Regions from separate parts of the Homo sapiens genome. Here region 1 is linked to region 2. A link means that fine-mapping ties the variant in region 2 to the plasma level of a protein whose gene starts in the linked region. Region 2 holds a variant in brackets. A gene starts in the other region. All regions are shown on their forward strands.

Region 1 (2,901 bases), not on the chromosome of region 2:
TCATTGTCAGCACCAATGCCACTGTCCTCAGAGCATAAGGGGAGACCCTGCACCCCAGGGTCGCCACAGCCACTCGCCAGGCTCTCTAGCTGCCTCAGAGCCCTCAGGAGGCGTTCATCCACATTCCTTTTTGTGCTCAGCTTATTTTCCAAGTGGGTTGCAGTGGAGTGGAGGTAGCTGCTGGAGCCCTCCAGGAAGCTGCCGGTGAGCGAGGCCACTGTGCCATTGAGCACCTGCAGCTTGCTGACTGTGTACTGTAGCAGCTGTTGCAGGAGATTTGGCTGCTCCTGGGGCTCTCTTTTCTTCAAAGGCCAAGCCAGATCCTCCCTGACTTCCTGCAGGAGCACTTCTCCATCCTTGGAGATCTCCCCCAACAGCTGGCTGATCTCCTCAAAGCACAGCAGCAAGAAGCTGACCATGGGCTGCAGCAGCTCCCGGGTCTGGGTGGCCTGATGGATGATGCACAGAATTGCTTCATATTTGGAGAGGCTGGAGTGTAGATAGGTGTAAGCCTGCTGGTGGGCCTTTACCAGAGGCTCCGGGAAGTCCACTTTGCCTTCAGGCTCATGAGCAGGGTGGATGGTTTGGTAGCAGTGGCTCTGTGTGCTTGACGTGTGACATTTTGCTGTCCTTTTCCATTTGGAAGTATCTTGGGTACTACTTTCCTCACTCTCATCTCCAGAAAAGTCTGCCCCTTGTGATCCATGGGAACCCTGTGTCTTGAACGGAATATCCTTAGCCATGTGGCTTTGTGATTTGTTCAGCTGGGATGAAGAGGTTTTGGTTCCTGGGATCAGTCCTTCCATATCTTTCCTTTTGCCTGAAGCAGGATCTCCCATGAGCTGACAAAGACCTTTAGCTGTGGTTTGGTTCCTCCTGGGACTTGGCTGCTCCTCTGCCAGGCCCTCCCCAGCGTCATAGCAGGTGGAGTTTTTAACCAGCAAAGGGATGGAACCTCTTTCACTTCCGCCCTGACATCCTGGCCGAATTGCTTTGGGCTTTTTCAAGAACTGAATGCCACTCTTTGCAACGCTGTTTACAAGGTCACTGTGTGAAGGTGTACACCCCATGATTTCAGCTTGTAGTCATCTTCCACCCACCTTCACAATTTTCCAAGAATCATATTTGAAATAGGAACAAAAGGCAATCTTACTAGTCCATCCAGGCAATTTTCAGGCCAGAATTCTTTGAAGTCCATGGTACAATATCCTAAACTTGGAACCAGCTTTCTTTATTTTCTTGGTCCAAATGTGAAGAGGGAGTGGTACCTGTCGTCCTGTTGTTGTTCTAAGTTTGGAACCCTCTGCTGTTAGTGAGCAGCGGGACAATTCTGAAGGCTCCCAGCCTGGTGGATTACGGGCCTGTGTTTTGCTCGCGTCCTGACAGATGTGGATAGCAAGTGCAGCTTAAGCCTATTAGGTTAATCATGCCCTAGCCAGTCAGCACTCACAGTGTGTTCTAATATAGAACTTCTCAGCATTTACTATCTTGGGAAGCGGATTATTTTTGCACGTGCTCATGCTTTTAATTCTGTTCAGACGCCTGCCATATGAAACCTAGAGAAATGAGCCATAATTGCAAAGGCTCTGGAAGAGATGCATTTGTGGAAGAGAAGAGAGGGCTCGTTGATTACAGGCCCTGGAAGAGAAGTGACCTTCACGGTTTAATAAGGGCAAACCAGCCAAGTGTGCTCCAATCTGCTGTTATCAAGAAGCCCCCAAAACACACAATAGATAATAATTGAAGTAATGCATTATTGTTTGTGTGGCTTATAAAAACCCCGGGACTCTAGTATAGAGAATGTCTCTAAATAAGATAGTGAATGAAGAAGGCAGGTTGCTTTTCCTTTGCATTAGAAAATTGAGTTAGGTAGCAGGAAAGCTATCCCCCCCAGTTTGGATGGGGACAGCAGGAAAAGTCACTGCCATGTAAAGCTCAAGGCTGGTCACTACGCTCAGGAAGGCAATGCTTTCATGGGAAGAGGCTTCTTATTCAAACTTCTTCATAGGAAAACAAGCTAAAAACTGGGCAGTGGAGAGCCATTTCATTATTAAGAGGAGAACTCAAGGGGAAGCCCATTTTTCTGCTCAAACTGAGCATGGGGCTCCTGCCTGTGGCTAAGGGTAGCAGCTGCCCATTTAAAACCTCCTTTTAAACTTTATTTGCTGTCAGTAAAATCTAGAACAACAGCTTGGCCTAGAAAGACTGGAGTTTGAATCCTGAGTCTTTCTCCTGTTAGTTGAGGAAACTTCTGATAGTTTTTAAGCTTTCCTGAGGCAGAGCTCATCTTTGAAATGAGGACCACGGTACTTACCTCACAGAGCCATTGTGAGGATTGTCAATTAATACTTGGTAAGTGCTTGACCCAAGGTAGGTACTCAAAAACATGCAGTTTCAGCCAGGTGTGGTGACTCAACGCCTATAAATCTCGGCACTTTGGAAGGTTGAGGCAGGCTTATCATTTGAGCTCAGGAGTTTGAGACCAGCCTGAGCAACATGGTGAGGCTGTCTCTACTAAAAATACAAAAAATTAGCTGGGGATGTTGGCACCCACCTGTAATCCCAGCTACTCCGGAGGCTGAGGTGGGAGAATCACCTGAGCCTAGGAAGTTGAGACTGCAGTGAGCTGTAATAGTGCTATTGCAAGCTGGCCTGGACTTTGGAAGTGAGACCCTGTCTTCAAAAAAAAAAAAAAAAAAAAAGTTTCTTACTCCTTTCCCCCTGGAAGCTAGGGCACTTATAATAATGAAAGTCATAAGAATTTCATTGGTTTGCGTTGGTTTATTCCTGAATGGTCTGGAAATAATTGCCTATGATGCACTTAGAGCCCTCTGAATCTGGTGTTCTTTTTGCCCCCCACCCCCACCCTGTGCTCAATCCACTGCTGCCTCAGGATTTTTC
Region 2 (2,910 bases):
CGAGTGGTCTTTTCCAGGTGGGGACGACAATGGCAGGTGTTTCTCTAGTGGCAGGTGAGGGGAACTGTCCAGGGCCTGGCCCTGCGGAACACAGCGGCCTCTCAGAGGAGGGTGTGCGGGAGTCCTGCCTGTTGGGAGCCTGGCGGATGCTGCCTTCTTGATTCCAGCCAGGATGGGAATCCAGGCAATTGGCAGGAGGTACTGGAATGAGGCTGGTGTCTACAGCTATTCAGGGTCCCAGGAATTGGCTGTTGGAATCGGGGCATCTGTCAAGACAGGGTCTGGTATAGCTGGCAGGGAAGGGCCAGGTCACCTGTGGTCATGAGTGAGGTCACCTCAGAGCCCTCTGAAGCCCCTATTTGGAGGAAGATGGTGTGCAGGGCACCAGCCCAGGCTGAGATGGCCCAGGTGTCCCTAGAGGCTGAGGGTCTGGGCACAAATCCTTGGGCCCGGCTCTTGTGCTCCTGGAGAGCTCCAAGCTGAGGCGTGCACACAGCCCCTGGGTTTCCAGCCAGTTTTTGCCACTGGGTTCATCACTATGGTAGTTACTGTAGTCACACAGCAGGAGGGCCCTTCACAAAAAGCCCGAGTGTGGCCAGAGACCTTTCCCACGCAGGCCCTGGTCCAGGCATTTGGGGCCCCTATTGACAGCGGTGCTGCGTCCTGGGGATCTCAGGCCGCTGTGATGCCACTGAGGACTGTCCTGGAAGAGGGTGTCCACTGGGGAGAGAGGCAGGGATTTCTGGAAGGTTCTTTGTCTCTGAATGTGGGAGGCGAGTCCTCTGTTGGCTTCCCCGGTGAGGTCTGGAAATGAGCAGGACTCAGGACGGCCGGGCAGGATGAGCGACGCCCAGCTCCGGCTGTCCCCAGGAATGTCTTCTGTCTTGGAAATGACCCAGGAGAGGCTCAGGTGTCAGGGCCAGGCAGGCCAGGGACCACAGGGGCAGGGACAGTGCACAGGGCCAGCCCCTCCCTCCTGGTGCCCCTACTCAGACATGAGGGCTCTCAGTGTCCACACATGTGGCCCAGCCTTGAGGGAGGGGCTTCTGGGATCGCTGGCCTGATGGCAGCAGATGGTGCTGTGAGGCCGTCCCTGTCCCATTTGGACTGGCGTTGGGAGGGCAGCAGCGATGCAGACCCCTCGGAGCCAGATCTGGATGACCTGTAGGGTGACCTTGGCCATCTGTTTCATGATCTCCAGGGCTGGCAGGCTGGAGCCCAGCGTGGTCAGTCACGGGCCTGTCCATCGTGCCTGCTGCCCTGCGGGTTTGGGTCACAGGCTGCACTGCTGTGGTAGCCACCATACCCATGGTGCTGTCTCCTCGATCAAAATCCTAACATGGCACGTACCGGTCCCCTGCAGGGAGGGCTGTGGCGGGAGGCTCCCAGGGATGGGTTTTTGATGGACTCTGTGACACTGTGGTTATAATAACTCCC[C/T]GAACCATAGTAATACCACAGTGACACAGACCTCACCCCAAACCTACCGCCCAGCCTGGGGAAACCCGGGATGTCCGGGGCTGACCTGAGGAGGCAGCAGGGCCCCATGGGGAGGGCTGTGGCGGGAAGCTTCCAGGCATGGGTTTTTGATGGACTCTGTGACACTGTGGTTATAATAACCAGTCAAAATATCGTAATACCACAGTGACACAGACCTCATTCTAAACCTACCGGCAGGCCTGGGGAAACCTGGGATGTCCAGGGCTGACCGGAGGAGGCAGCAGGGCTCTGAGGGGAGGCTGTGGGCCCAGCGCTCTCAGGTCTGCTGTGGGGACACTCGGGTCTATCCCTCGCTTATGTGGATAGTGTCCGTGCCCACCTGTGTCCTGAGGCTCCACCTCAGGCTGGCATCTGTCCCTATGTCCCTACCCACCCCATGGCCATGTCCTTTCGGGTTCATAAGTTGCCCACAAATCACAGAGTCATCATTCTGGAGATTTTTATATTCCCAGGGCCACCAGCTGCCTCCACCCAGAAAGGTCAGATGTGGGAGACTTCTAGAGTCATTCCCCAACCCTGGATGAGCTTCTGCACCCTCAGTGCTACTCAGGCTCCAGCAAGACCTGGAGCAGGTGCAGGTGAGGCCCGAGGCCAGGTGAGGTCCAGGTCAGGTGAAGCCCAGGCCAGGTGAAGTCCAGGCCAGGTGAGGTCCAGGCCAGATGAGGTCCAGGTCAGGTGAGGCCCAGGCCAGGTGAAGCCCAGGCCAGATGAGGTCCAGGTCAGGGGAAGCCAAGGCCAGGTGAGTTCCAGGACAGGTTAAACCCAGGTCAGGAGACGTTCAGGTGAGTTGAGGCCCAGGTCAGGTAAAGCTTGGGACAGGCGAGGTCCAAGTCAGGTGAGGCCAAGGTCAGGTGAAGCCCAGGTTAAGTGAGGCCCAGGCCAGTGAGGTCCAGGTCAGGGGAGGCTGAGGTGGATGTGTGAGGCGTCTGCAGTTTTCTCTGGGTGCTCACCCTGCCTGGTGTCCCTGCCCCTCCTCTCAGCACCCACTCTGTGCCTGCAAGGTGGTGGCCCGTGCACAGGTGGTGCTGGCTGCGGAGGTGCTGGGCTCTGCCTCCCTGTGCGTGGGCGTCCCTCTCGGGCTCTGCCTGGGGAGTGTGGCTGAGTTGCTTCTCTCTGGAATTCACTGACTGTGCCGTCCTCCGGGATATATGGCCCTGCGCTTGCTCCACATCAGGCCCCAGGAACTGCCAGCAGGTACCCGCCTGCCCTGCTGCACAGTGAGCCTGCAACCTGTCCGGGGATCCCAGGGAGGTGAATGCCACCACACATCAGCCCTTTATCTCTTTAAAGTCGTTTATTTGGGGATACATCATCGATGTCTCATATACTAAATATATGTCTGTATCATTGTGCAATTGCCTGTGTCATCGCTTATTTATCCGACCTGGGTTAATGTCTTTGCTATTATGAACA

Direction of the effects. Alleles are on the strand shown, and positions count from the first base shown. The strength of an association depends on the size of the effect and on how common the allele is.
For the plasma level of the protein whose gene starts at base 1,332 in region 1, T is the high allele of the variant in region 2 and C is the other (strong association).

The links. PIP is the chance, under the fine-mapping model, that this variant and not a neighbour inherited with it causes the effect. Protein levels are from antibody-based Olink assays in UK Biobank. Linkage for the fine-mapping came from a reference panel and not from the study's own genotypes, which makes the PIPs less certain.
Region 1: PCARE starts here. The variant in region 2 is fine-mapped to the plasma level of the PCARE protein (UK Biobank, PIP above 0.99).

Annotation. Positions count from the first base shown.
Region 1 is chr2:29,073,192-29,076,092 of GRCh38, forward strand. PCARE (photoreceptor cilium actin regulator) reads right to left here and starts at 1,332. Exons shown (of 2, transcript NM_001029883.3): 1 at 1-1,332. The coding sequence starts at 1,070.
Region 2 is chr14:105,903,075-105,905,984 of GRCh38, forward strand. It overlaps IGH, IGHD4-11, IGHD3-10 and IGHD3-9. Among named protein-coding and RNA genes, the nearest start is that of FAM30A, 13 kb to the right of the region's middle. The variant C/T (reference allele first, on the strand shown) is at 1,438.